Homo sapiens: one gene and its partner. The protein of the gene in region 2 purifies or fractionates together with the protein of the main gene of each other region. This does not show direct contact. Each region holds a gene or a part of one and is shown on either strand. Other genes may lie near its edges.

Region 1 (7,037 bases), on a different chromosome or scaffold from region 2:
AGAATGTCTATGTTCAAATCCCAGCTCTACAACTTGGTAGCTACAACCTTGAGCAAGTTAATCTCTAGGCTTCAGTTTGATCACAATAATCTTACCTACCTAATAGGGCAGTCAGCCCACCAGTAAACACTAATTAATGCTGATAGTTGTTGAATTTTTGGCTGGTGGGCAAGTACCACCATAGATGAGTTTGTTCATTTGTCAGAATGTCTGAATTCAAGGAACCATGGTTGTTTGGGGGTAGTAATGTATTTAAACAACAAAAGTGTGGAGTTCAAAAGTCAAATGTGCTTAAGTGCTGAATTCACGGACAGTCTGTACCGTTCTTTTCCTAGTCCTGCCAGTTTATACTAATCGCCTTAGAATTACTGAAGAAAGCCTCTTCTAATCCTCTTCCCATGTACATGTTACAAAAGCTACATAATTCTGACTTCAGTTTTGAGAATATAACTTGTTAATATATCCTGATGTTTAGTGATGTGAAATGGACATGGTGTTTCCCATTAGACAGTCAAAACACTATTAATTCTAAATAACTATGGGACCAAAGAAATTCTCTTTGGTCCTCAAGAACAATTTTAAAAATCAAATTATTCTTGAAAGTATTGAGTGTTTTTAGTTTAAAAAAAAAAAAGTCTGCAGGCAGCTGCTGCACAAAGCTGTAATGAGTCACAAACTATGAACCCTGGATTCAGTTCTCACCTTCCATCACCCACCTTGTATATATATCTCTGCCCTCTGAAAATATACACTGGAGGGCAAGGGCATGAGAATATGCAGCCCCGGGGAAATAGGAAATCAGAGTCCTTTCTCTGCCACTTACCATCTGTGTGACCTCAGGCAAATCAGTGTCTTCAGCTCAAAGTGAGGTAGTTTCTAGCACAGTGGTTAAGAAGGTGAGCCTGGGCCAGGCACAGTGGCTCACACCTGTAATCCCAGCACTCTGGGAGGCTGAGGCAGGACTGCTTGAGCTCAGGAGTTTTAGACTAGACTGGGCAACATGACGAAACCCATTCTCTACAATATATACAAAAATTAGCCGGCATGGTGGCGGGCACCTGTAATCCCAGCTACTCAGGAGACTGAGGCAGGAGAATCACTTGAACCCAGGAGGCGGAGGCTGGTTGCAGTGCACTGTGATTGTGCAACTGCACTCTAGCCTGGATGACAGAATGAGACTGTCTCCAAAAAAAAAAAAAAAAAAAAAAAAAAGGTGAGCCTGGAGCCAGGCATGGTGGCTCACACCTATAATCCCAGCACTTTGGGAGGCTGAGTAGGTCAAGAGTTCAAGTCCAGCCTGGCTAACATGGTAAACTCCTGTCTCTACTAAAAACATGGAAGTTCGCTGGGCCTGGTGGCGTGCAACTGTAATCTCAGCTACTCAGGAGGCTGAGGCAGGAGAATCGCTTGAACCTGGGAGGCAGAGGGTGCAGTGAACTGAGATTGTGCCACTGTACTCCAACCTGGACGACAGAGTGAGACTCATCTCAAAAGAAAAAAAAGGTGAGCCTGAAACAGTCCACAGGGGTTCAAATTCTAGCTCCAAGAAATACTAACTGAGTGGCCTTAGACAAATTACACAACAACAATAAAGCCTCAGTTTCCTCATCTGTTTTTTTTTTTGTTGTTGTTGTTGTTAAAGGGTTCAGGGGCAGGAAAAAACAGTAGCCACCTCTTGAGAATGGGTGAAGATTATATTAGATAACCCATATAAAAGGCCAAGGCCAGTGACTGTCATAATGAGTCATCTATAAACCTTAGCTATAGGATTGTTGCTAAAATCAAATGAGATGTGAGAGTAAAAAAAAAAATCACACAAATTATGAAATAAAAGCCGGACTAACTGTGGCCAGAAACAAAGTTAACCACCGCCCCCCGCTCCCAAAACGATTCCCACCTTGGAGAGAAGCCTCCAATTTAGTAACATCCACATGAGGTCTATAAATACGATGTCTACTTTTGTAAAAACCACTGACCTTGAAGCTTCCTCACCATTAAGTGAGATAGACCAAGACCATAAAACCATCTAAGAGGAAAGGAAATGCAAAAAGGACCAATCCAATTACACATTTCGGTTATTGGAAAAGGGTTTCTCCCAAACTCAAAATCTGTGATTTTTCACTACCAGGGTAAATGGATGAGATGACATCAAGGTCTTCAAGTCTGCGGGTTGAGGTAAGAGTTGTGGAGAGGGATCTGCTTAGCACAGGGAAGGAAAGCTGCAGAGAAAACCACAGAGAAGCTGCAGAAAGGAGAAGCCCTCCAGTAGCTCTGCATGCCCCTCTGACACGAGCTATCACAATCTCTTCACCGCTATTTTAGGCCCAAGACCCCCTCCCCCCGCCTCCCACGTGTGACCAGAGTAGCTGCTTCTCCACCCAACAGCTCTGGATTGGGAGCCTGGAATCTCGGGCCTGCTCCTGACTCGATCTGGGTGACCTTGCGTCAGCCCCTTCCCCACTCCGGACCTCAGTTTCTCCTATGCACCGAAGCCCACCTAGTCAGACAACCCTCTAGGCCCAATTCCCGTAAATAAAAAAAAATCTCTGGTAGGGAATCTTCCCTCAGGCAGGGCGTCCCACCCTCGTGCCGGAGCCGGCTTCCACCTTCGGGGAGATCTCCGGTCTCCCTAGGAGCGGCGGTAACGATGCAGCCTGCGGGTAGCGCAGGTGTCTGCAGAACCACGCGTCCCACGGGGCCTGCCAAGCAGGCCAGCTCTGCCGACCAGCTGCTGCCCAGACCGCGCCACTACCACCCCAAGGCTGAGGAAGGTTGGGCCGGCGCCTACGCGAGGCCCGCGGCTGCGGCCTAGTGGCCCGCGCGGCCCGCCCCCCTGCGCCTGCCCGGCCCGCGCGCCGGCCCTCAGCACCCCTCCTGGGCTTTCGCCCCAGCCTCGGCAGCCCTCGGCGCGTCGGGCTGGCGAGCGGGCTGGTCCAAGACACTCACCGTAAATGGGCCGGAGGCGCCTGTCGTTAGGGTCCTGCACATGGCCCCGCGTCGCCATGATGACAAGCGCAGAACCACAGTGCGCACGCGCGGGGCAGGACCCCGGGAAAGGGCTATTAAAGGGCCAGCGTCGATCTCGCTTGTCTATCACGATAGTCGCGGTGCTGCGACTGAACGCGCCTGCGCGGAAAGGGAAGCATCCACCCTTGCCGATTGCCACCTCTTTAAACGCTGTTCCTTCACTTAGCAGGTGGGATCAAGCTGGCAAGAGGAGGCAGCTGTTGCTGTTAAAGTCTTCCGAGTCACTGACTGGGAAGTTAGGAGAGGAGGGGAGAAAGCTCTCAAAGTTAGGGTTCGGCTGCTCCTGTTTATCCTATTTATTCTCCGTCCTGAAGAACCAGCTAGACTTGGCTGTGATTAATCGCAGAGGAACCAGAAACTCCCGGGGGAGAGAGACCCAGGGGAAAGTTGGGGAAGCGGGGCTGATCAACAGCAAAAATCTGCCAAAAAAGTTCGAGAGAGCCGGGCGCTGTGGCTCAGCCTGTAATCCCAGCACTTTGGGAGGCCGAGGCGGGCGGATCACAAGGTCAGGAGATCGAGACCATCCTGGCTAACACGGTGAAACCCCATCTCTACTAAAAATACAAAAAAAGTTAGCGGGGCGTAGTGGCGGGCGCCTGTAGTCCCAGCTACTCATGAGGCTGAGGCAGGAGAATGGCGTGAACCCAGGAGGCGGAGCTTGCAGTAAGCCGAGATCGCGCCACTGCACCCCAGCCTGGGCGACAGAGCGAGACTCCATCTCAAAAAAAAAAAAAAAAAAAGAAAAAAGTTCGAGAGCCCTCCACCACCTGTTCCTGGACCAAACTGAGCGTCAGGCTGCTGTTTCTCCTGGTTCAGTAAGGAGATGCAGATGAACTGGAGAGGAAGCGAGTTTTTATTTCTGCAACCAGTTACAGGGAGAAGGCCTGGAAATTATCACCAGACCAACTTAAAATTACAAAGCTTTCCAGAGCTTATATACCTTCTAAGCTATATGTCTACGTGTAAATGTGCATTCATCTAAAGACATAAGTGATTAACTCGCCGGGCGCGGTGGCTCATGCCTGTAATCCCAGCACTTTGGGAGGCCAAGGCGGGCGGATCACGAGGTCAGGAGATCGAGACCACGGTGAAACCCCATCTCTACTAAAAATACAAAAAATTAGCTGGGCGCAGTGACAGGCGCCTGTAGTCCCAGCTACTAGGGAGGCTGAGGCAGGAGAATGGCGTGAACCCGGAAGGCGGAGCTTGCAGTGAGCCGAGATCCCGGCACTGCACTCCAGCCTGGGCGAGGGAGGCTCCGTCTCAAAAAAAAAAAAATAATAATAATAATAATTGATTAACTCACTTTAGTCTATAACTAAGGTTTGAGTCCTGAAGACTTTCCTTTGAAGCCTCAGTAAATTTACTTAATCTAAATGGCAATAGGTGCTGGGGTGATTATCCTTATCTTGCCTCCTACTAAATCACGGAGGTTTGGGGAGTTACTTCAGACCCCCAATAAAATTTGTTTAATCCTAAATGGGTCCTGTTAGGAATTCTTTCGTTATTTTGTCATGCTTTAAGGCCAAGGAAAGGCCTAGGCAAAACTCTTGGTGGGCTTTTGTTACATTCCATCCTTTGTATAAGGGCACTGGCTTTTTTTTTTTAGCTTTTAATATGTAACTTAACCACTCAGTTAGTACTGAAACAGTTGTTATGGAGGCCTGTGTTAGTGAGACCTGGCCTGCCACACACCCTTCTCCCAGGACTCAGCCAACAAAGAAGCATCCTAGATGAATACTTACTCGGTATCTGCCTAGAGTATTTAAATGCAAGGTCTTTACATTTATTCTCTCATTTAATTTTCATAACTGTCATCGTATTTCCCTGGGAGGTAGATCTTATTATTACCTCTCTTTTTACAGATAGATTTATTCGTACAACACTGAGTTATTGAGTGCCTATTATTTGACACACTCTTGTTTTAGGCACAGAGGATACATCAATAAATAAAATAGACAGAGACTTAATGGAGTTTTTATTTGTAGTGAGGGAGACAGACAATAAATAAGTAGATAGCCTATTACATGGTGATAAATGCTACTGAGAAAAATAAAGCAGGAAAGGGGGGCAGTGAGAGAGGGAGGTAATTTTAAATAGTGTGGTAAGGCTGGCTTGGTGGCTCACCCCTGTAATCCCACCACTTTGGCAGGCCAAAGTGGGTGGATCACATGAGGTCAGGGGTTCAAGACAAGCCTGGCCAACATGATAAAACCCCTTCTCTGCTAAAAATACAAATATTAGCTGGGTGTGGTAGTGTGAGCCTGTAACCCCGGCTACTCAGGAGGCTGAGGCAGGAGAATCGCTTGAACCCGGTAGGCAAAGGTTGCAGTGAGCCAAGATCGTGCCATTGCACTCCAGCATGGGCAACAGAGCAAGACTCTTGCATAAATAAATAAATAGGCCGGGTGCAGTGGGTCGTGCCTGTAATCTCAGCACTTTGTGAGGCCGAGGCGGGTGGATCACCTGAGGTCAGGAGTTTGAGACCAGCCTGGGCAACGTGGCGAAACCCCATCTCTACTAAAAATACAAAAAATTAGTCAGGCGTGGTGGCACGTGCCTGTAATCCCAGCTACTCCCGAGGCTGAGGCTTGAACCCGGGAGGTGGAGGTTGCAGTGAGCCAAGATCATGTTGTTGCACTCTAGCCTGGGCAACAGAGCAAGACTCCATCTCAAAAAAAAAAAAAAAAAAGGAAGGCATTTAAATACTCCAGAGGTCGGGAATGGTGACTCACGCCTGTAATCCTAGCACTTAGGAGGTCTAGGCGAGCGGATCACTTGAGGACATGAGTTCGAGACCAGCCTGGGCAACATGGCAAAACCCCATCTCTACTAAAAATAAAAAATTAGCTGAGCGGCTGGGCACAGTGGCTCACGCCTGTAATCCCAGCACTTTGGGAGGCTAAGGTGGGTGGATCACGAGGTCAGGAGATCGAGACCATCCTGGCTAACACGGTGAAACCCTGTCTTTACTAAAAATACAAAAAAATTAGCCAGACGTGGTGGCGGGCACTTGTAGTCCCAGCTACTCGGGAGGCTGAGGCAGGAGAATGGCGTGAACCCAGGAGACGGAGCTTGCAGTGAGCCGAGATTGTGCCACTGCACTCCAGCCTGCAACAGAGTGAGACTCCATCTCCAAAAAAAAAAAAAAAAAAAAAAAAATTAGCTGAGCAGGGTGGTGCGCACCTGTAATCCCAGCTACTCAGGGGGCTGAGGCACAAGAATCACTTGAGCCCAGGAGGTGGAAGTTGCAGAGCCGAGATTGCAACACTGCACTCCAGCCTGGGCAACAGAGGGAGACTCTGTCTCAAAAATATATATAAATAAATAAATACTCCCTGGATAAGGATCATTTGAGCCCAGGAGTTTGAGGCTGTAGTGAGCTATGATTGCACTACTGCACTCCGGCCTGGGTGACAGAGCGAGACCCTGACTCTCCAAAAACAAACAAACAAAGACTCCCGGGATGAAGTTATCAGGCAAAGTACAACAAAATATTTGAGACATACATACATACATTCACTGTTTATCTTAAATTCAAATTTAACTGGGTGTCCTGTATTTTTATTTGCTAAATCGGGCAACCCTGCGCTAGGGGAAACTCCATGCCCCCCAAATCATGCTAAGCAGCAACAATGAAGGGCAGATGCCTCAGGCAAGCTGACCCTAGGATCACTCAGAGATGGTGTGTGACCCTGCTGAGGTTGGGCTAGGACAGGGAAAAGGAGGGAGGAGAGCTGGGGTTCACCTTTGGTGCAAGTGAAAGAGATGATGAGTCACCTGAGATTTAAGAATTTCCCAGGAATGGAAAAATACAGCACCTTTAAGGGGAGCACATATGAGGCTCCTAACCAAGGCTCGGGTTACTCAGCCATGTTCTTACGCTACCTTTGTTGGCCTGGCCCCAGAGGAATGCTGATAGACTTGGCACCCAGCTCCCTGAACTTGGCAAGACCAGGGCATCATATGGATCTACCTAGCAGAGGCTTCTAGAGTCTTAGGTCACCATC
Region 2 (7,215 bases):
ATAGGCCAGAGCAAGCTTTGTTGTAATCACTCTCATCTCAACCACCCAGGCATCAGCTGTGGAAATAGCAGACACAGTAAGACAGCACAATAGTGGAAACATGTTTATTTTTATTATTTAGGGTTCCAAAGACTGGGGTAGGTAAAACTATTGAAGATTAACAAGGCAAACTCAGCAGAGAAGAGAGTGTCCAGGTTGAGTTGAGTTGGAGAGATGGTCCGGTTTAATTTTTGACTCCGTTGTAATTGCTGGATCAGTTCTAGACATGTATTTTCCAGTTGCCTCTAGTTTTTGAACTTGCAGACAAAGGAGAACTTGTCTTCACAAGGCACATCCTTCCATTTCTGGAATCCTATAAGTCAATGAGAAGAGTTACAACTGGGAGACCCGAAAGAGTATGACCCTCCTGGCTTTAGGACTCAGGACAAAAACCAAACATCCATTTCCTTAATGAGGAGTTCACCTTTCCTCTATCCCAGTCCCAGTTCCATCCCTGGAGCTAAGCAGGAGAGAACAGAAACAGGTGGATGGATTCTCTGCCTCTCACCTGTGCTTGAGGTCAGGCTCACACAGTAGCCAGGATTAACACTGCTTGGGGCTCCAATGCCCCAGGACTTGTAGGAGACCAGGGACCCACTGCTCCAGTGCCAGCGGCGGTTCTAGATGGGGAAGGGCCAGAACAGAGGCAGTGGTCACTCAAAAATACATGGAATCACTGGGCCTGTGTGCACACTCAGAAACATGCTAAGACACAAAGGAAGAATAAACCTTGCTAAATATTGTTTCCTTTCCTTTGCTATTGCTCTAAACTTCTTTCCTGAACTGTCCAACTCATTAACTGTATTCCACCAAGAAATAAGTGTTATGAATTTGACAGAGACCCAAAGTATCTCACTTAAAAAGTGGTTCCTGATTTTTTGTCTTTGTGGCCCAGGACCCTCATATCCAGCATAGCATTGGCTGACCATTAGTTGTTGATATATTATATTATTTAGTATACTACCAGGTTCCCAAATGCCAGCAGTACAGCAGCAGATTTTTACCACAAGTCTCCTTTCCTATATAGTCGGCAATCTAGTCTCTCTTGTGACTCTGACAGTAACAAAATAGGTAAGAAGTTGGTGCATAAAGATGCTTTGTTGACTGAAAACAGAATAAGTTTATTCATGAATGACAAGAACACCTAGGAAATTCAGCCTTCCACTTATATCTCCAATCATCTACAGTGCACCTTGCTACACAGGACATTAGAGGATCTGTAAACAGCCTGATTTCTGGAAAGCGATAAAAGCTGGTACTTAAGAGACCAGAACTTGAACCTCCTTCTTACTTCTCAAACCTGATCATTAGGAGATAAAGAAGGCTGCAGCCTACCTTTTTGGGGTCATGGAGGCCAATCCAGACATTGAAGTCATCAGTGCCACTCTCCTTAATCAGTGAGGCCACAAAGGCACCCTCGGCCTGGGTGAGCACAGACACCAGGTTGCCCGAATTCATGTTCTGGCAATAGAGCTGTTGCAGAAGAAAATGGAGCACTCAGTGGAGGAGGAAGTTGTGACGGATATACTGAGTCCTCCAAGAGGACGGGTCAGAAAAAGGACAGCAGAGTAATGTCCGTGATGATGCTGTCACTGACCACCAGGTTCTTTGTGCTGGGAATGTGCTGAATAATGGGATAAAGTAGATTGGAAAGTTTGGGGCTGATGATAGTATAGCAAGGGGTTCAGTCTCATCTCATTGCAGCCACTGAACACACTGGAGAGTGGCAGCTTCCCCTCCCTTCATGAGTCTCCCTTCCCACACTGCTCTCCTCACTCACATCTGCATCAACCCAGGTCTCACGGTCTTCATTAAAGTAGTAGCAGTAGGAGCGATAGGCATTGGTGCCTTCTGGGCAGCTGATCCGGGCCTGGGGCAACTCTGTCTGGGCCTCTTGGCCTGAAAAAGAAGAGACAATTAAAGGAGGCTCTCAGGGTAAGGAAAAGGCTTGAAGGTGAGGTAAGAGCTTCTGAGGTTCCTTTATAGAAACAGAAGAATCCAGTCTATTATGGGATGACTGCTCACTATTGCTCCTGCATCCTACATCTTCTGTCTTTGGTTTCTTTGATCAGGGGAAAAAAAACAGAATGAATAGGCCAAAGAAACAAGTCTCCAGTTTCCCTTTTATGTCTGGAGCTCAGGCTCTTCTACCTTGAAGGACTCAGCCTTCTACTTTCTCAAGCCTGACTTGGTTTCCCTGAACACAAGGCTCTCTTCAGTTCTCCACCCCATTAGTGACTGTCTACACACAGACATCCCCAAATCCACCATCACGTATAAATTTAATCAGATAAACTCATGCCAACTGCAGCAGTTGCTTATAAGGGGTCATTTTAAATTCTAGCTCCAACTCCTTAATGAGGTGTGGATGTATATAAATGTGAAGAGATCAGCAATAAAGATCACTAAACACCACAAAACAACCCTTAACAGTGACTCTGCTTTTTTTTTTTTTTTCAAGTAGACCCGTATGCTTGGGGATAGAGTGAAGTCTTCAGGGCTAGAAAGAGTTGGTTGGTGGAAAAGAGATCTTACCTTGGCTCTGAGACAGAAACATCAGGCAGGAGATCAGCATGAAGTATGAGCTGGTCTGAGCCATGCTGAGCTGCAATGAATCTCTTGCTTAAGAGGCAAATCAACAATCTCTATAGGAGAACACAGAGAAGGGGGTTCTGAGAGATGGAGAGCAAAGCACCTATTACCTTCCTTAAAACCTCCTCTCAGAATTTCTGAGACCAGGAAGGTCCTCTGAGACACCCACACCTTCAAATGTTTCTCTTGAGAGTGGGGATTATACAGACTCAGTAACTGAAAAACAACTTTGGATCCCACTGAGGCTTCATTACAGCTAAAACCTCTTGGACAGAAACTCATGCTGTATCTTCCCGAAGATTTTAGATCTACAGTGCATGTTAGAGACGCCCTTCTCCTGTAATGCCCACTTACCTGTTGGCTGAGTCTGAGTTGGCTTCTCAGGCCAGGTAGCTGTAGGAGCTTTATATCAGGATCTGAGATAAGAACCACGTCATTTAAGCAAAAGGGGTGGGGGCAAGCGGTGAGTTTTGGGAGCATTGACAGTAAGAGATTCTGGCACCAGTACGAGCCTTTTCCCGGCACACACTGGGAGTGGTCACAACTCAGGTCCCCTTCTGGCAAAAAATTTGGCAAGCTGTCTAAGTCCAAGGTGGACTTTGCTCTTGCTCAGCAGAAAACAACTGAGGGCTCCCATGTGCCCTAATAACCCAGAGAGGAGCAGAGAACAGTAGACTTCCTTGTATTCCCTGTAAATTTAGAGGCTCCTCTTTGGTGTCAGGCATGGGTAGGAGATGGGGAAGAATTAACTGATTCCAAATAATTTAGAACAATGTGCTTGTGGCAATAAGTGGTTCCTCCATGTCTTTTTAGGCTCACAAACCTCTCAAGACCTACCTCAAGGGGTAGGTTAAATTTATATTTCTAAACATTTAACATGTCTAACAAGGTTTGAGCTAACAAAATACACATATTCTCAATGTGAGAATTGTAGAGAGCTGATGCCTAAGGAAGCTTAAAGGAGCTAAATATGAAGTCAGGCTTCATTGAAATTGTCCATTTGAAGTCAACTGTTTGTTAGTATGAAGTCAAAGATTGTGTGGTGAAATTGAGTATTTACCAGAATCATCATAGAATAGTCATTTATAATTCAGGGAATAAAAGCCAATCAGAATGCAAAATTAGGAAGAAAAAACTAACCTGAATATTCACAGAAAGAGAGATAAGTATATGAATTGGGACAAATGGATTAACAAAATATAATAAAATACTAAACAGAATTTAAATCGAATAAAGTAGATATCTATATTTCAACTTGGACTAGTATCAAAGCCATAACATTGAATACAAAAATTCAGTTGCAAGAAGTTATAAGCTATTTGATAAACTTTATATATGGTTTTAAAAGACAGATTAATACTAAATTTTATTTATTAATCAATTCTTATACAGTTTAAAAAATAAAAATCTGAAATGTAAGAATATATATTACAATTTGTCATAGTATTTGCCTAACAATTTTAAGGTTTTTTTTTCTTTATATAAAAACTGATGATGGGCCTGGTGTGGTGGCTCAAGCCTGTCATCCCAGCACTTTGGGAGACTGAGATGAGAGGATCACTTGAGCCCAGGAATTCGAGACCAGCCTGGGCAACATAGCGAGACCCCATCTCTACAAAAAAAGTATATATATATATATATATATATATATATATATATATATATATATATATATATATATCCAGATATGGTGGCACATGCCTGTAGTCTCAGCTACTTAAGAGGCTAAGGTGGGGGATTGTTTGAGCTTGGGAAGTAGAGGTTGCAGTGAGTTGTGCCACTGCACTCCAGCCTGGGTGATAGAACAGGGAACTGTCTCAAAAAATAAAAACAAAAACTAACGATATTAAACAAAGATGACAAATGTTAACATTGTTTATTCTCACTGGTTCATATGCATTTGTTAAATTAATCCAAATTTTTTCTGCTTTTACAAAAAGTAGTTATACCTTTTAAAATGATTACAACCAGAGAATGATTCCTATTTTTTTCTATAAATAAGAGATTCAGAAATATTCTTCCGTTAACAAAGGATATAGTAGGGAAGAGTCGGGTATACTTGGTATCATTACATATTTATCTTGTGAAAATTAAACAAGCAATTAATTTTTAAAAAATCTAAGATAAAAATACTTTATGGCATAATGTTTTCTTTTCTTTTTTTAACTTTAATCTTTTTTTTTTTTTTTGAGATGGAGTCTGGCTCTGTCACCCAGACTGGAGTACAGTGGCTCAATCTCAGCTCACTGCAAGCTCCGCCTTTGGGGTTCACGCCATTCTCCTGCCTCAGCCTCCCGAGTAGAGTAGCTGGGACTACAGGCATCCGCCACCACACCCGGCTAAGTTTTTTTATTTTTTTTTATTTTTAGCAGAGATGGGGTTTCACCGTGTTAGCCAGAATGGTCTCGATCTCCTGACCTCATGATCTGCCTGCCTCAGCCTCCCAAAATGCTGGGATTACAGGCGTGAGCTAACACACCCACCCTTTAACTTTAATTTTAAGTTAAGTGGTACAAGTGCAAGTTTGTTACAGAGGTAAACTTGTGTAATGGGGGTTTGTTGTGCAGATTATTTCATCACCCAGGTATTAAGCCTAGTACCCTTAGTTACTTTTGCTGACCCTCTCCCTCCTCCCATGTTCCACCCTCCAAAAGGCCCCAGTGTGTGTTGTTCCCCACTATTTGTTCAATTGTTCTCATCACTTAGCTCCCACTTATAAGTGAGAACATGCAGTATTTGGTTTTCTGTTCTTGTGTTAGTTTGCTAAAGATAATGGCCTCCAGCTCCATTCATGTCCCTCAAAAGGACATTATCTCATTCTTTTGTATGGCTGCATAGTATTCCATGGTGTATATGTACCACATTTTCTTTATCCAGTTTATCATTGATGGGCATTTAGGTTGATTCCATGTCTTTGCTATAGTGAACAGTGCTGCAATGAACATATGTATGCATATGACTTTATAATAAATATTTTTAAAATATGAGATTTTTTCTAAATTTAACATAACTTCAAACAAGAAATGACTGTCCAGGTATAAAAGACCTAATACTCTAAAATACACAATAAAATATGTTACAACCAGGAAGACATAAAACAGAGATTCAAAACAAATAACAATTGACAAAGTACTCCCATAAAAATCTTTATTGTCCCCAGTAGCAGTAAATCCATTGAGAAGTTGCACTTATTGCTTACATAGGTGACTGGCCAAATTCCACATGCAAGATAACAAAATTTAGGACATAAATTGGTAGCAGCCTTGGTCCCAGAGAAATTCCTTTTTCAGGAAAGCCATACATTCAATCCCTTTAATATTTTCCTTATTTTTCTGAGGAACTTCAAGGACCTTTGACCTAGTTTTATAAGATTCCCAGAAGCTCATTTCAGGCCTTTCCCATCTATTCCTTATGTTAATTTTCTCAGAGATAGAAACAAGTATCATGGACGTTAGGGTTAATATGTGCCCAAGTGGGGCAATTTCTTGATAAGACTTAATATGGCTTAGAACGTTTCAAGGCTGTAGGTGATAAATGGTGCTACTGGCCATCATCCAGTAGGTATTTTCTGCTTTTGATGCTTGTAATAGAGATTTTAGACTTGTTATTGAGAAATAATTTTCCTCTTGTTTAAATACTTAGCAGGCATGTGAATAGAAGCCTGTCTGCAAACCTTAGACTGGAGAGGAAAGGAGCTCAAGAAATACAAGATACATTCAGGACTTTCCCTGGTCTGCTGTGTTCTGCAGACATAAAGAAAACTTACTTATAACTTAGCCTTTTCTGCTTCACAGGAAACCTCTGTTTTATTTGACAAAAAATTTCTTTTTCTTTTTTTTTTTTGAGATGGATCCTCACTCTGTCACCCAGGCTGTAGTGCAGTGGTGCCATCTCAGCTCACTGCAACCTCCGCTTCTCAGGCTCAAGTGATTCTCCTGCCTCAGCCTTACAAGTAGCTGGGATTACAGGCATAAGCCACCACGCCTGGATAATTTTTGTATTTTTAGTAGAGACAGGGTTTCACTATGTTGGCCAGGCTGGTCTCGAACTCCTAACCTCAGGTGATCCACCCACTTCAGCCTCCCAAAGTGCTGTGATTACAAGCATGAGCCACTGCATCTGGCCATTTAACACAAACTTTCATTGCATGCTCTCTGTGTCAGGGACTATTCTAATGCTGACTAACAGGAACCTACTTAATCCACAAGACGTCCTAATAATATAGGTTCTATTAAGAATCATATTTAACAAATGAAGAGACTGAGGGTCAGAGAAGAACTAACTAAACCAATTCAAATGGCAGATATTTATTGGAACTATATTCAACACAAGCAGTTTTGCTTTAGGGTCACTTTGTTATTCCAACTACCTGAGTTTCTTTTATTAAGTAATTTCCATGTTCAACCCATCTAGGCCTCTGAGGACTGATTTAGTAACCACAAACTCATTATGGCTATGGCCAGAGACACCATAAGAAGAGCTTAAAATGTAAATAAGTATAAGACATCAAGCACCCATACCTACCCCACAATTTATTTGTTTTTTTTTTTTAAACATCTATTAACAACACAGTTCTGATCTGAA

What was found.
Region 1: the proteins of REG1A (region 2) and NAA25 purify together in Homo sapiens (co-immunoprecipitation; 2 studies listed by BioGRID and IntAct, with this or other methods). This does not show direct contact.

The regions. Positions count from the first base shown.
Region 1 is NC_000012.12:112,105,770-112,112,806, forward strand, and holds the start of NAA25 (N-alpha-acetyltransferase 25, NatB auxiliary subunit), read right to left. Parts: upstream 3,015-7,037; 5' UTR 3,005-3,014; coding exon 2,947-3,004; intron 1-2,946. UniProt on the Homo sapiens protein: Non-catalytic subunit of the NatB complex which catalyzes acetylation of the N-terminal methionine residues of peptides beginning with Met-Asp, Met-Glu, Met-Asn and Met-Gln. May play a role in normal cell-cycle progression.
Region 2 is NC_000002.12:79,116,285-79,123,499, reverse strand, and holds REG1A (lithostathine-1-alpha precursor), read right to left. Parts: upstream 3,013-7,215; 5' UTR 2,986-3,012; intron 2,685-2,985; 5' UTR 2,639-2,684; coding exon 2,575-2,638; intron 1,939-2,574; coding exon 1,820-1,938; intron 1,513-1,819; coding exon 1,375-1,512; intron 660-1,374; coding exon 548-659; intron 353-547; coding exon 285-352; 3' UTR 91-284; downstream 1-90. UniProt on the Homo sapiens protein: Might act as an inhibitor of spontaneous calcium carbonate precipitation. May be associated with neuronal sprouting in brain, and with brain and pancreas regeneration.